2 separate regions of the Homo sapiens genome follow, and region 2 is linked to region 1. A link means that fine-mapping ties the variant in region 1 to the expression of a gene that starts in the linked region. Tissue or cell type: whole blood. Region 1 holds a variant in brackets; the other region holds the start of a gene. All regions are shown on one strand. Distances are from middle to middle.

Region 1 (8,102 bases):
CACACTGGTGAGTGTGTTCTGGTGCAGAAGCGACAACAATCTCCGGTTACAGCAGAAAGTGACCTCCTCTGTTGGTTTACCAATTGCCACTGTGACTGAGGACCATGGCTCAGTGCAGAAGCAGCCACTAGAAGCAGGTTGGCAATGGAGGAGAATGACCCTGTGGGTATCCCAGAGAGGCAGCATTAGAGGAAAGGGCCAGAGAGCACAAGAGAGGCTGAGGAGGCACGCCGGCGTCTCACGGGGTTGTGCACCCGCCCTTCTCTGGGAGGGTTCCCACGGAAGGTTCCGGGGCCCGAAGTCAGGGCTGAGCACTGAGACCCAGCTCTCTGCTCGTCCCACCAGGTGGCTCTTGGACAACTGTTCCACCTCTTCATGCCTCAGGGTCGCCCAGGGTAGAATCCCAGCACCTCACCAATGGGCTGATGGGCAGCTAGGGCAACGCCCAGCACTGTTGTGGCTGGAGTGTGTGTCCCTTCAAAACTCCAAAATTGGAACTTACCCCAAGATGATGATATGGGGAGGTGGGGCCCTTGGGAGGTGACTAGGCCATGAGGGCTCTGCCAGCCCCTTCCATCTCTTCTCCCATACGAGGACACTGCAGTGAGGTGCTACCCTGGAGACAGAGAGCCCTCAGCAGACACCAAATCTGCCGGCACCCAGATCTTGAACTTCCCAGCCCCCAGATCTGTGAGAAATGAGTTTCTGTTATCACCCAGTCCATGGTATTTTGTAGAACAGACCAGGACAGCACGTGCTGAATCACAGTAAACACCTGCTGTCATGAAGGCTGCAGCTGCAATGCAAGTACCAAAGACAGAGCTGCAGTCCAGCCCCCAGTGAAACGTCCTTGGAGACTGGAGCTCCTAGCAGGGTCTGAATTTGCACTGAAATGGACAGAAATGGCATAAATGTTCACATTTTAACTCTTAGTTAAGGAAGGGGCACAGCTGCTTCTCCACCAGTGTCCTTGAGTGACACAGAGCAGAGCATCGTTGAAGAGCAGAGAGGACTTTTAAAAAGAGGAATTAAAAATGTAGGTGGACAAATATTCTCTTGAGTTGAGAACAATTTACACATAACTTGGGTTTTTAAGCCTTACTGTTCTTCAGCACACTCTCTTTCATTTACGCTTTAACCCCAGAATTAAACTTTTCTCCAACCTGTAGATGAAATGGCCCATTTCTCTGAAAGGTCCTTGGCAAAAAGCAACACTGTAATTTAAGGCAAATTAATGGGGAGGGCAGTTTAAAATTCACTAGGGTGAATTTTAAAGTCTTAGTGAAGTTTGGTTGTATTATTCTCAAACTACAATAAGGTAAGTAAGTCACTGCTTTAAATGCCTACTAATGATTTTAAAATCAGCTAATGAACATGGCAGGCTTTCTGTACATAATGCTGCAGAAATGTCTGCAATCTTGCTTCTGGTACTTCTATTACAAATTTGGATTTACTAGAGTGGAAGCCCTGCTTGAAAACTATTCCAGTCCAGGCGCAGTAGCTCACGCCCGTAATCCCAGCACTTTGGGAGGCTGAGGCGGGCGGATCACGAGGTCAGGAGTTCGAGACCAGCCTGACCAACATGGTGAAACTCCATCTCTACTAAAAATACAAAAAAAAAAAAAATCTTTGCCAAGCGTGGTGGCTCACGCCTGTAATCCCAGCTACTGAGGAGGCTGAGGCAGGAGAATCACTTGAACCCGGGAGGCAGAGGTTGCAGTAAACCGAGATCATGCCACTGCACTCCAGCCTGGGCAACAGAGCGAGACTCCATCTCAAAAAAAAAAAAAAACCTACTTCAAACACAGCTGGGCAGAGGCAAAGCATATGAAGACCCTCCCTCCGTAATGGTGAAATCTGTGAAATCAGGAACAATCAGAGAAAGCTACAGGCCCAGACTGTCAGCAGAGACATGAGGGGCCTTCAAAATGAAGTAACTACTCTACTGGCATTTAATGACATGCTTAGAAACTACACCATAAACAAATCTAACAAAACAGTAAAACTCAAGAAAAGGGAAGCTAGCTATGATGACTGTTTTTCTTGTTTTTTGAGACAGGGTCTCTGTCTGCCACCCAAGGCTGGAGTGCAGGGCACGATCCTAGCTCATAGTGGGCTCAACTTCCTGGGCTCAATTGACCCTCCCACCTCAGCCTCCTGACTACAGGTGTGGACCACCATGCCCAGCTAATTTTTGTATTTTCTGCAGAGATGGATTTTGCCATATTGCCCAGGCTGGTCTCGAACTCCAGGGCTCAAGCAATCTACTGGCCTCAGCCTCCCAAAGTGCTGGTATCATAAATGTGAGCCACCACGTCCAGCCTGTGATGATGTTTTAAAAGGGCCAAACTAGTTCACACTTGGGCAGAGATTATTAAGTCCAATATTTGAATCCATGCAAACACACTGATACATGCCCATGTGTACGCCCGTGGACTTGAATGCTGCCATGCTGGACACAGGCCTTGACTTTGCGTCTCCACCCAAATTCCATCTTGAATTGTAATCCCCACGTGTGGAGAAGTGATTGGATCACGGGGGCGGCTCCCCCACGCTGTTCTCGTGACAGTGAGGGCGTCTAACGAGAGCTGATGGTTTTAAAAGTGGCAGTTTTGCTCATGCTCACTTCCCCTTCCGCCATGATTGTAAGTTTCCTGAGGTCCCCCGAGTCATGTGGAACTGTGAGTCCATTAAACCTCTTTCCTTTACATATTACCCAGTCTCGGGCAGTTCTTTATAGCAGCGTGAGAACGAACTGACAGAGGCCTGAACACCAAGAGGTAAACGTAAGGACACCTACACTGAGGTTGTTTCTTTCATCGCTAAGAATAACCATCCAATTACCTTAAAGTATCAATCCTTGACTTTAGGTGTCACTATGGACGGTTCAATACGTTACCCAGAAATGTTGACAAACCTGAGCTTTCCACCGCTATTACATCCAGAATGAAATTCAGGTATGCTGGCAGAAATTCCAATATTCAAATTACTGCAAGAAAATCATTTAAGTCAAAAGTTGAAGGATGTTCAAGGCCCATGCAGAGCAGCAGGGAAGATCAGATTTCCGTACCCAACACTGCAAGAGAACGGGGCCCCACTGGACACATGGGTAGCTAGAAAACAGATGCGCGCCCAAAGCCTCCGCCGGCATGAGTTTGCTCCGTGTCTGCCCCACAGGACATAGGAGGCACTTGTCACGACTGCCAGCGCTGAGGACCTTGCTGCTGCTGGGGAGCAGCTACGTAGGTCAAGAGGATCCTTGGCATGAACTCCACAGGCACAGGCGCTTGCCTTCGTGCATTCATCTCTCGCGTGTACGTGTGGCAGTCCACGGCTGGAATCCGGGTGTGACTTAGGAGAGCAGGGCATAAAAGAGATCTGGCTTCCCTGGCTCTACTGGGATCTGCGCTCCCAGAATCCAGCTCCCTACGTGTGGAGAGAAACAGGGGAGCCCACCCACAGCCCTGCTGAGCTCCAGGTGAGAGCCCGGGCCAATACACGGGAATGAGTCACCTTCAAAGAGGCCCATTCGGGCCCCAGAAGAGCCCACAAGCTTCCCCGCCCAGCCCGGAAGAAACTGCAGACCTGCAGATGTAGGAGCGAGCTAAGGAGTGCTGCTGAAGCCCTGGGGCAGCTCCTGCATCCAGGGGAACCTGAGGAAGGAGCCACACAAAGTGAGTCCTGCGCCGCGCGGCCCGGAGAGAGAGAAAGAGGGATTCACACTTTGTAGAATAGCCTCTCCTTGAACAAGCAGCTTTCAAATGCAGTAACTTTGCAAAGATGAGCTCTTATAGTTTGTGTTCTTCTTTAGTAAATTTTTTATAAACGGGGAAATGTGCATAGTCTGAAAAATGGCAGTGCTGGGGACTAAACTGTGTCCCCCAAATTTCTTACATTGAAGTCCTAGCCCCAGTGTGACTGTATCTGGAGGTAAGGTCTTCAGGGGGTAACTAAGGCTAAATGTGGTCATAAGGGTGAGGTCCTAACCCAACAGAACTGTGGCCTTATAAGAGGAAGAGAGCCGGGTGTGGTGGCACATGCCTGTCACCCCAGCACTTTGGGAGGCCGAGGTGGGGGAATTGCTTTAGCCCAGGCGTTCCAGACCAGCCTGTGCAATATTAGCAAGAC[G/C]CTGTCTCTACAAAAAATAAAAAAATTAGTTGGGTGTGGTGGCATGCACCTGTGCTCCCAGCTACTTGGGAGGCTGAGGAGGGAAGATCACTTGAGTCTCGGAGGTCGAGGCTGCAGTAAGCACTGACTGCACTGCCGCACTCCAGCCTGGGTGACAGAGTGAGGTCCTGTCTCAAAAAAGGAGGGAGAGAGTCATCTCTATCTGTACCATCTCTAGCACAGCAAGAATACCACCTTATTCTTAAGTGTGCAACTCAGAAGAGAGCCCTCCCCAGAAGCCGACCGTGCTGGCAACCCCATCTCAGTCAGACCTCCAGCCTCTAGAACTGTGAGGAAATACATTCCTGTTGCTTAAGCTGCCTGTGGTATTCTGTGATGGCAGCCCCAACAGCCCAATGTGAGTGGCCCAACTTAGCGACTGTCAACCTCGCCGTGGTGCCGAAGGGACGCGCTCAGGGGCAGCCATGCCTCAGCGTCCACGCAGCCCTTCAGTTTCCACTCTCAGTGTAGCACTCGGTAAGCTACACGAGGTATTTACACTTTTATTTTTATTTATTTATTTTTTTGAGACAGAGTTTCGCTCTTGTTGCCCAGGCTGGAGTGCAATGGCATGATCTCGGCTCACTGCAACCTTTGCCTCCCGGGTTCAAGCGATTCTCCTGCCTCAGCCTCCTGAGTAGCTGGAATTACAGGTATGCGCCACCACGCCCGGCTAATTTTGTATTTTTAGTAGAGACGGGGTTTCTCCATGTTGGTCAGGCTGGTCTCCAACTCTCAATCTCAGGTGATCTGCCTGCCTTGGCCTCTGAAAGTGCTGGGATTACAGGCGTGAGCCACCACGCCCGGCATCTACACTTTATTATAAAATAAAATCGGCTTTGTGTTTGATTTTGCCTAAGAGTGGAGGCTTCTGAGTATGTTAAGGAAGGCTAGAGTGAGCCATAATGTTTAGTAGCAGGTGTATTAAATGTATTTTCAATTTAAGATGGTTTTTTAAAAGAAATTTTTTTTTAACCAACAAAGCAAAGGCAAATAAAATAAGTTTATTGGGATGTAACCCTATCATAAATTGAGGAGCATCCATACAGGCAAGCTATAAAATCTGGAAAATTTAAATCAAATTAAATTCTGCTTTTAAAAAGGTGCCTTAAGTTAACCAAGCATTTTGATAACACATTCAAATTTAATATATAAAAATAGATGTATCCTGGAAGATATAATGAAGAACATGCCATGTGTATAAATTCAGAATACGCTTTTTACACAAAGAACTACAAAAAGTTACAAAGACAGCCTTCAGGAACCACACTTAGGAAAAGTGAGCCGAGCAGCCTTCACGCAAAGCCTCCTTCAAAGAAGTCTCACAAAGACTCCAGAACCAGCCGAGTCTGTGAAAAAGGAATTCCAGGTTTTCATCAGGCTGAAATTAGTTACAAATGAAGGAGATTAACTCGGGTGTGCTGAAAATCTCAGCCTCAGCATCCCTGGGAAAAGCGCCTCCAAGAGTTCCGGCTTCAGGGAGCCTTGTTGCAGTACCGGACCGGTCTCATCAGCACAACCAAAGTGGAAAGAAACAACTGCTCACCCGTCCTCGGGGCTCCGTGTACTTTCAACACACCGTGGACAGGGGAGGAAATGGGTTCTGCTTGCTGACCACCAGCTTCTGATGCTGATGCGATATGTAGCCTTTGACGTGTCCCTGCGGGGCAGAAAGGGAGGAATGCGTTTACATTTTTGGATCTGAGTCATGTCAAAGATGCTGGGTGATCTAATTAATTTGGCATTAGCATTCTTCCCCAAGAGCGGCACAGTTCAGTTCAGCGGGAAGACAATGAGTAAAAATAAATACAATCAACCCTCTATATCCACGGTGGGTTTCATATCCATGAATCTAACCAACTGTGGACTGAAAATATTTGGGGAAAAAAAATGCATCTGTAATGAACACGTACAGACGCTCTTCCCTTGCCGTGATTCCCTAAACAATACAGTACAACAGCTATCTACAGTGCACTGAGTATTTTAAGTAACCTAGAGATAATTTAAAGTATACAGGAGGACGTGCATAGCTCATATGCAAATACTACGTCCTATCAGTGACTGAAGCACCTGTGGATTTTGGTATCCGAGGGGGGTTGGAGAATCGACAGATACCGAGGGATGTACCGCCAGTAAAGAATATGCAAACATACAAGAGTATCCGTCCCCTCATGCTCCTAAGGCCCTGGTGAATGGTATTTCCTGGGCTAAAATTAGTTCTATCAAAAAAAAAGCAGAAGGCCTTTTAACAATTTTAACACCACCACACTGAAGCTTCAAATTCTGGGCTGAATCTTGCTGTGAGTAGCTGCTTAAATTAAAACCAGGACTCACACACCATGTATATCAAGTTAGCCAGAATACACTGAACTTCGTCAATGTCCACGTCCTCCACCTGCATGAACTTCAAGGCAACCAGAAAAGCATCCAGAGACAGCTGGTGTGTTTTCAGTAACAAATACCTGGAAGAGGGGAGGAGAAGGGCACTGTGGTTACCGACAGGATGCAATACTCCACAGCCAAGAAAAGGCACCTCTTAATAAGCCGGTGTTCTAAAGGAGTAAAAAAATTCCCACCTATTAGATAAACTCTAAACTACACTCTCAGAGCTATTAAATCTAATTTGACTTTTCAATCTTTAAAAAGTCACTAGTACAAACACAATTTTTAATTATTTTCTAAGTATTTCATTAAGGTTCGGTTTTTTTTTTCACATTTTAATCTCCCTGAAATCAGGAAGCACCTGACAATGGGCTGTGTCTCACAGACTCAGCGAAATAGGGTCCCTACTGTTTGTGACGTGCTACCCACAGCTCTATACAAAGTTGGCCTTTGCCTGAAGTTTACACAACTGAGATCCTGCTGGGACGAGGCCTCAGAAGACGTGTGAGGAAAGGAATGACGATCTCTGCATCTGCCTTTGTGACAGGCAGAAGTGGCTGGGAGGGCTACTTGGTCAGCACTAAGGGAGGGGAGTGAGTGGCGAGTCCTGTGTGCTCTGATGAAATGTGGTACCGCGGCTCTCAGGGCTGATGTTCTCAAGTTGTCTTCTCACATAGAACCTGCTTACCTCCCCCACAAGTCCAGGCACAGCTTGTGCTACTCACGTGTCTCGCGCAGGGTCCCCAGGAGGCAGTGGGCGGAGGCTTCATTTTATCCCACACAATGGAAGGAAGATAACGACCCCACCCACACGGTGGCCTTCTCTCTTAGACTGCAACAGCCCTGGATGTCTGACTGCTCTGCCGAGAGCCACACTGGGAGCCCAATGTGCCGGGGAAATGCTTACACTTTCTTAAAGAGGTTCCTGTAGGTGATGATCTTCAGCTTCTCCAGGATGAGGAAGATTCCGCAGCGAATGAAGAAGGCCTCGTGCTTCGCCAGCGCCTCGTGCAGCAGCAGCAGGTTGCCCTCGCTGGTGAGGGGGGAGGCGCGTCAGAAGGAGGGTGAGTTTCTCACAGAGCGTGCACGTCAACTCTCATCAGGCTTGCATTTTTAAAACCCCAAACAGGAAGGATGGCATACTCTACCTCACAGCTCTGGTTACTTCCGCAAACTGCATCAGGTGATACTTTTTCAGGAGCTCCACAGTGGGCATGTGACCCTAAGAGTCAATTTTCCAGAATGAAAATGCTTTCATTTTTGACAAAATTGTCCTTGATAAATATTCATATCAAGGAATTAAGTTTTAAGAAAATTGCAACCTGAGTTTCTTAGAATGTCCATGGATTAAACACATCATAGTACACTAGGAAAACAACACAGGTCTAGAAATCAGAACACCTGGGTACAACACACTTTTGTCATTCCATGACACGTGACCTTGATCTTGACCTTCTCACATTTCTTCGAATTTCTATAACAGGAGAGTGATAACTGAAGAAATGCTAGTATAAGCATGAGATGTAGGCATACGGAAGTAGCTTCCAGAAGAA
Region 2 (8,102 bases), 71 kb before region 1:
GAGGAGGAGGGCTCACCTACCAGGCATCTGGATAGATCATAAACCTGTCATCAGTCGTGACAAGGGGGAGAGAGGCTAAACTGGTCGAGCAGAATTCAGATTCCCAGGCAGGGATGTGTGCAGGGACCTGGCTTGTCCTGGGGCTGGTCAATCTTTGGCACGGAATGGCCTCTTCAGGAACGGGTGTTATTGGGACAGCTGCCTTTCCATGTGGATGATGGCATAAAAGTATAGCCCCCCCAAACTTAAGATTAAAACATTATTATGAGGAAACAGAATATTCTTATTGCCTAGGGCAAGGATAGATTTCTTACAAAAGACAAGCTACACTTTAAGAGATGGACAAAAAGATAAGATGGACAATCTGAGCACATCCCATGGTGAATTTCTCTCCACGCTAAGACCCCAGACAAGGGTGAAAAGCAGGACCAAGGCCCAGAGAAGAAAAATTCTGCTCAAAATCATAACTGTTCAACCTTGCATACATTCTCTCTCTTAAACTGAAAGTTAGCATCCTACAGCACTGGTGTGACACCCGGCAGGCCCGAGGGCTCAGCTGCCTCCAGCTGTGGCCCCAAGAAGGCAAAGCACCCGGGTGGGGTGGAGGGAGCAGCCCCGTGCTCTACTGGCTGACAGTGGTGCCCAGGCCCAGCTCCCTTCTCTGCACAGACAGCAGAGTTCCGCTTAGCACAGGCTTTTCCTCGCCAGTGCACACACTGTCAGCCATTGGAACTGGCCTGCAAGACAGCTTGCTGTGGCGGCTTTGCAGGCACAGGGCACACAGGCATCCGTGCACGCAGCTCCTCTGTCCTCCCATGCCCTGCACCCTCCGTCACAAGGAAACCCTTGCTTCTAGGATTGCACCAAATAGGATTTGGAACCAATTGGTGCCCAAGCTCAAATCCTGTTAGTGGCTGCCTGTTTCCCTGGCATACATGCGTCCTGCCGAGATGCATTTGGCACCAGGTGGGATGTGCTCACTGGTTCCCAAAACGAGAACACATAGCAGTTTCCCTGGATGTTTGTTCAATACTATTCCCGGGACCTGCCCGTAGATTCCAATTCCTTATGGGTGTGGAAGAGCCTGGAAATCACGTGTGTGTAGGTGTGTGGCATGTGTATAGGGGTGTGTTTATGTGGTGTGACTTTGGGGTATGAGTGTGGCATGTGTACGGTGTGTGTGAGTGTGGTATGTGTATGGCGTGAGTTTGGGTTGTGCGAGCGTGGTTCTCATGTACGAGTGTGAGCATGGAGATTCTTTGGTAGGGAAGGAGTCAGGGTCTCCCTCTGTCGCCCAGGCTTGAGTGCAGTGGCACAATCTCAGCTCATTGCAACCTCTGCCTCCCGGGTTCTCTGTCTCTGGGACCACAGGCATGAACCACCAAGCCCAGCTAATTTTTTTATTTTTTGTCTAGCTTTGGTCTTGCTATGTTGCCCAGGTTGGTCTGGAACTCCTTTCCTCAAGCGATCCTCAGTCCTCAGCCTCCCAAAGTGCTGGGATTACAGGCATGAGCCACCACCCAAGAGATTCTGATGTCACAGACATCTGACTCACACACTCCCTGGACAGCTCACGTGTGCCCACCACCACAGTCAGGGATGGCTGCAGATGAACAAGGTGCTGACGTGGTTTCTGTAGCCCCCAAACAAGCAACTTGCCTTGAGATGACAACCAAAGTTTTCCTGTGTCCTCCACACTCAAGAGTGACTGTGAGGCGGAGGGGCCCAGCCCTTCTTGCAGGCGGGAATGAGTGGATGGGTGGATCAACAGAGGCTGCCACAGGAGAGAGGGAGGCCTGGCCTGGGAACAGAGCTGTGACCGTGCCCTTCCCCAGGGTAGGGGCTGAAGGACCCTCCCATCCTAGTGACAGGGCCACAGCATGTCCAAGGAGGCCCCAGAGGAGGTCCCGGGAGTCCTGGGAGAGCCTGGTTAGCCTCCCTGAAGGGAGGAAGTGGGGTTTTGTGAGAGGGATGGTGCAGCAGCCCCCACACCTGCTACTCCGTGTGGCCGGGTCCAGCCCCAGGCAAGGTTCCAGGCATGCCCCTGGGACAGACGTGGGAGGGAGACCAGCAGGCAGGTCCCCCTCAGGGAGGTATGGAGCGGGTCCCCGGGGCCAGGTGGAGCCCCTCACACCTGTGTCCTCAAGGACCCACACCAGGACAATGGCCATAGGCGGGCACCTGCAGCCGCCCTGGCCAGCAGTGAGACGGGCAGAGAGCCCAGCCAGATAGCCCGGTTCCTGCCCCCTCCCGCCTGCCCGCACAGAGAGGGCTGCATGCAGGTGAGGGTCCATCACCTGAAGAGCTTCACCAGCCCCGAGGCCATGAGCCACTGAATCTCTCAGGGGGTTTTGGCGCTTGAGGTTCCCCAGGTCATTCTGCTGCCCAGAGAGGGTTGAGGACCTCTGACCTGGAGCCCCAAAGGGGAAGGGTACCCTAAGACCAGCCAGCCATCTACTCTCAGGTGGGAAAGGGGTAGGGTTTAGATATGGCCCCCTCCCCTCCACGTCCTGAAATTACCTTGGGCTGTGCTGGCCGAGAGCCGCGGGGACCAGATTTGAGCTGGACGTGAGCTTTATTCCAGACGGAGCAGCTACTTTGTAAGCGATCTCCCTGGGATCGATATCATGGAGGGGCACAGATGGGCTTCAGCTGTGCTGGGTGGAAGAGAAAACATGCCCTGTCGGCCCCTCAGCAAGTGCTCTGCTCTCTGGACTGAGATGCAGGTCAGCAGCAAGCAGGGAGGCTTTGGGGGTGCTGGGGGCTGCTTTGAAAGGCACCCCTGAGCTAAGACTTGGCTGTTGGGAAGGAATCACCTCCCTCCCTCCAGCCGTAAAAAGAACTGGACATCAGCTTCCAAAGAAGTCATCAGCAATGCAACTGTTCACATGGAGGATACTCCCTGCTTGAGGGGTCAGACAGGCCTGCTGGGCAACCCAGGAGGCTTGGATGACCGTCTACCCCAGTGTTTTTGGGATGGAAAGTTCCACATTCTGAGAACCCTCAGTCCCTGGGCAACCTGGGGTGGTTAGTCACCACAGCTTGTGGCTTGGGCCCATGACAGCAGGTAGAAATGACGTGGACTGCCGCCAGCCGGGCACAGTGGCTCACGCCTGTAATCCCAGCACTTTGGGAGGCTGAGGCATGTGGATCACTTGAGGTCAGGAGTTCGAAACCAGCCTGGTCAACACGGTGAAACCCCATCTCTGCTAAAAAAAAAAAATATATATATATAAATTAGCCAGGCATGGTGACGTGCACCTGTGGTCCCAGCTACTCAGGAGGCTGAGGCACAAGAATCACTTGAACCCGGGAGGTGGAGGTTGCAGTGAGATTGCACCAGTGCACTCTCCAGCCTGGCAACAGAGCAAGACTCTGTCTCAAACAAACAAAACAAAACAAACAAAAAGACGTAAGATGTGGACCGCTGGAGAATGGGGGTGCTGCCTGCAGTCAAAACGGAGTGGGGGTGCCCAGCTCAGGGCCAGAATGATCCTATTCCCGGCACTTCTCAGTGAGGCTCTGTGGCTCACCTAAGAAACCAGCCTCCCTTGCAGGCAACGGCCTAGCTGGCCTGGTCTGGAGGCTCTCTTCAAATATTTACATCCACACCCAAGATACAGTCTTGAGATTTGACTCGCATGATTGCTATGGGACAAGTTTTCATCTGCAGTTTAAATCTGTTTCCCAACTTACATTAGGGGTTTGGAATTCTAGATCGTATTTGAAGTGTTGGTGCCACACACACCTTAACACCTGCACGCTGGCAACAAAACCGTCCGCTCTGCAGCACAGCTGGGGTCACCTGACCTTTCTCCTGTCCCCCCCACTTGAGCTCAGTGGCTGGGCAGCAGGGGATGCATGGCCACTGGCCGGCCAGGTGCAGCTCTCAGCTGGGGTGTTCAGAGGACGCCTGTGTCCTCCCCTCCCCCATCCCTCTGTCACCCTTGGAGGCAGAGAACTTTGCCCGTCAGTCCCATGGGGAATGTCAACAGGCAGGGGCAGCACTGCAGAGATTTCATCATGGTCTCCCAGGCCCTCAGGCTCCTCTGCCTTCTGCTTGGGCTTCAGGGCTGCCTGGCTGCAGGTGCGTCCGGGGAGGTTTTCTCCATAAACTTGGTGGAAGGGCAGTGGGCAAATCCAGGAGCCAGCCCGGGCTTCCCAAACCCCGCCCTTGCTCCGGACACCCCCATCCACCAGGAGGGTTTTCTGGCGGCTCCTGTTCAATTTCTTTCCTTCTAGAAACCAGCATCCAGGCACAGGAGGGGAGGCCCTTCTTGGTGGCCCAGGCTTTGGCGGGATTATTTTTCAAAGAACTTTAGGAGTGGGTGGTGCTTTCCTGGCCCCCATGGGCCCCTGCCTGTGAGGTCGGACAAGCGCAGGGAGTCTGGGGCCTCTCAGAGTGCAGGAAGTGCGCACAGGGTGCTCCCAGGCTGGGGAGCACAGGTAGGGGACGGTGCGTGGGGGATGGCGCCTGGGGCATGGGGGATGGGGTGTGGGAAACGGCATGTGGGGCGTAGGGGATGGGGTGTGGAGGATCGGGGGTGGGGATGGCGTGTGGGGTGTGGGGGATGGGCCGTGGGGGGGTGGGGCCTGGGAAACAGCATGTGGGGCATGGGGTGTGGGGGTGAGGTGTGGGAAAGTGTGTGGGGTGTGGGGGATGGGGCATGGAAAGGGCGTGTGGGGTGCAGGGGATGGGGCATGGAGGTGTGGGGGATGGGGTGTGTGGGGTGTCGGGGATGGGGCATGTGGGGTGTGGGGGATGGGGCATGGAAAGGGCGTGTGGGGTGCAGAGGATGGGGCATGGGGGGGTGGGGATGGCGAGTGGGGCTGGGGCCTGGGAATGGTGAGTGGGGCATGGGGATGGCGAGTAGGGGGTGTGGCGTGAGGATGGCTAGTGGGGCGTGGGGATGGCGTGTGGGGATGGCGAGTGGGGGGTGGGCTGTGAGGGACAGTGCCTGGGATGTGGGGCTGCAGCCCTAGCTCACAGCATGGCCTTATGACCCCGGCCACCTTCCTGCCCCAGGCGGGGTCGCTAAGGCCTCAGGAGGAGAAACACGGGACATGCCGTGGAAGCCGGGGCCTCACAGAGGTGAGCAGGGACTGCCACTGGTTTTGTCCTGGGGCCCAGTGGGGGCCAACATCACCTCCTTCCCCTCCCATGGCAAAGAGCCAGCCCGCGGGGTGGCTACTGCAGTGCCCCCCAAGGAGGGTGTTCCCTGCTCGAGAGGAAGTGACCGCTCCAGCTTGGCCTTCCCTGGGACTGGGGTGCAGGCGATTTTATCTTCTTTGCTCCATTCTGTTCCTTCCAGATAATCGTGTGTTCTTCATCAGGTTTTCCTCAGTTCTTGAGAGCTTTTCTGATGCAAATCTGCTTTCACCCCAGGGCGGTCACCGGCTCTGCTCACACCAGCCTCCAAGGGTGTGGGTGTCCCGGGAGTGTGGGTGTCCCGGGGGCGTGGGTGTCCCAGGAGTGTGGGTGTCCCGGGGGCGTGGGTGTCCCGGGAGTGTGGGTGTCCCGGGGGCGTGGGTGTCCCGGGAGTGTGGGTGTCCCGGAGGCGAGGGTGTCCCGGGAGTGTGGGTGTCCCGGGGGAGTGGGTGTCCCGGGAGTGTGGGTGTCCCGGAGGCGAGGGTGTCCCGGGAGTGTGGGTGTCCCGGGGGCGTGGGTGTCCCGGGAGTGTGGGTGTCCCGGGGGAGTGGGTGTCCCGGGAGTGTGGGTGTCCCGGAGGCGAGGGTGTCCCGGGAGTGTGGGTGTCCCGGGGGAGTGGGTGTCCCGGGAGTGTGGGTGTCCCGGAGGCGAGGGTGTCCCGGGAGTGTGGGTGTCCCGGGGGCGTGGGTGTCCCGGGAGCGTGGGTGTCCCGGGGGCGTGGGTGTCCCGGGAGTGTGGGTGTCCCGGGGGCGTGGGTGTCCCGGGAGTGTGGGTGTCCCGGGGGCGTGGGTGTCCCGGGAGTGTGGGTGTCCCGGGAGTGTGGGTGTTCCGGAGGCGAGGGTGTCCCGGGAGTGTGCGTGTCCCGGGGGCGTGGGTGTCCCGGGGGCGTGGGTGTCCCGGGGGCGTGGGTGTTCCGGAGGCGAGGGTATCCCAGAAGTGTGAGTGTCCCAGGGGCGTGGGTGTCCCGGGGGTGTGGGTGTCCCGGGGGCGTGGGTGTCCCGGGAGTGTGGGTGTTCCGGAGGTGAGGGTGTCCCGGGAGTGTGGGTGTTCCGGAGGCGAGGGTGTCCCGGGAGTGTGGGTGTCCCGGGGGCGTGGGTGTCCCGGGAGTGTGGGTGTTCCGGAGGTGAGGGTGTCCCGGGAGTGTGGGTGTTCCGGAGGCGAGGGTGTCCCGGGAGTGTGGGTGTCCCAGGGGCGTGGGTGTCCCGGGAGTGTGGGTGTTCCGGAGGCGAGGGTGTCCCGGGAGTGTGGGTGTTCCGGAGGCGAGGGTGTCCCGGGAGTGTGGGTGTCCCGGGGGCGTGGGTGTCCCGGGGGTTGTGGGTGTCCCGGGAGTGTGGGTGTTCCGGAGGCGAGGGTGTCCCGGGAGTGTGGGTGTTCCGGAGGCGAGGGTGTCCCGGGAGTGTGGGTGTCCCGGGGGTGTGGGTGTCCCGGGGGTGTGGGTGTCCCGGGAGTGTGGGTGTCCCGGGGGAGTGGGTGTCCCGGGAGTGTGGGTGTTCCGGAGGCGAGGGTGTCCCAGGAGCGTGGGTGTCCCGGAGGCGAGGGTGTCCCGGGAGCGTGGGTGTCCCGGGGGCGTGGGTGTCCCGGGAGTGTGGGTGTCCCGGGGGAGTGGGTGTCCCGGGAGTGTGGGTGTCCCGGAGGCGAGGGTGTCCCAGGAGTGTGGGTGTCCCGGGGGCGTGGGTGTCCCGGGAGTGTGGGTGTTCCAGAGGCGAGGGTATCCCAGAAGTGTGAGTGTCCCGGGGGTGTGGGTGTCCCGGGGGTCGTGGGTGTCCCGGGAGTGTGGGTGTTCCAGAGGCGAGGGTGTCCCGGGAGTGTGGGTGTCCCAGGGGTGTGGGTGTCCCGGGGGCGTGGGTGTCCCGGGAGTGTGGGTGTCCCGGGGGAGTGGGTGTCCCGGGAGTGTGGGTGTTCCGGAGGCGAGGGTGTCCCGGGAGTGTGGGTGTTCCGGAGGCGAGGGTGTCCCGGGAGCGTGGGTGTCCCGGGGGCGTGGGTGTCCCGGGAGCGTGGGTGTCCCAGGGGTGTGGGTGTCCCGGGGGCGTGGGTGTCCCGGGAGTGTGGGTGTCCCGGGGGAGTGGATGTCCCGGGAGTGTGGGTGTTCCGGAGGCGAGGGTGTCCCGGGAGTGTGGGTGTTCCGGAGGCGAGGGTGTCCCGGGAGTGTGGGTGTCCCGGGGGCGTGGGTGTCCCGGGAGTGTGGGTGTCCCGGGGGCGTGGGTATCCCAGAAGTGTGAGTGTCCCAGGGGCGTGGGTGTCCGGGGGGCGTGGGTGTCCCGGGGGTGTGGGTGTCCCGGGGGTCGTGGGTGTCCCGGGAGCGTGGGTGTCGGGGACTGCAGGGACATGGGCCTCCCCTCCCACTCCTGCCGCCCAGGGCACCTCCTGTGAGGACTCGGAGTCCGTGAGTTCCCACCTCCTTGAGCCCGATTCTTTGGTGTCCCCGCCTGCATCCTCAGCCTCCTTCCAAACCAGACCAGTTCTCTAGGGGCGTCGACGTGTGAAACTGATTTTAAAGAAAACAGGCAGTGGCCTTTCTCTCGGCCCCACGTGGCCCAGTAGCGCTCACCTTCCGTCCCTTCTTCCGCGCTCAGTAACCAATTTAGGCCGCTCCTGCAGAACTCGGGCTCCTGCCCACCGGCCCACAGCGTCCACCTGAGGCCTCGTCCTCCCAGCAAAGGTCGTCCCTCCGGAACGCGCCTCCTGCGGCCTCTCCAGAGCCCCTCCCGCGCGTCCTCTCAGCCCCGCTCGCCTCCTCCCGGGGCCTCCCTCTCCCGCCTGCCCCCAGGCCCGTCTCCCCTCGCGGGCTGAGGCAGGTTCGGGCAGCACGGCCGCCCCGGGGCGGGGGTCACTCTCCACCACCGCGTGGTGCCCACAGCTCACGGCGCTCCCGGGTGACGGTCCCCTCGGCTGTAGGGCGTCCTGAAGAGCGGCCTGCTCGGAGCTGAGCGCACGGGGTTGCCTCGCCCTGGGC

The links. PIP is the estimated chance that this variant, and not a neighbour inherited with it, causes the effect.
Region 2: it holds the start of F7, and the variant in region 1 is fine-mapped to the expression of F7 in whole blood (TOPMed, PIP 0.99).

Annotation. Positions count from the first base shown.
Region 1 is chr13:113,172,461-113,180,562 of GRCh38, forward strand. PCID2 (PCI domain containing 2) reads right to left here. Exons shown (of 14, transcript NM_001127202.4): 11 at 7,698-7,771; 12 at 7,457-7,582; 13 at 6,506-6,629; 14 at 5,076-5,827. The coding sequence ends at 5,738. Among named protein-coding and RNA genes, the nearest start is that of PROZ, 18 kb to the left of the region's middle. RefSeq lists an enhancer at 325-825. The variant G/C (reference allele first, on the strand shown) is at 4,129.
Region 2 is chr13:113,101,819-113,109,920 of GRCh38, forward strand. It overlaps F7 (coagulation factor VII), which reads left to right and starts at 3,973. Exons shown (of 8, transcript NM_019616.4): 1 at 3,973-4,087. The coding sequence starts at 4,024.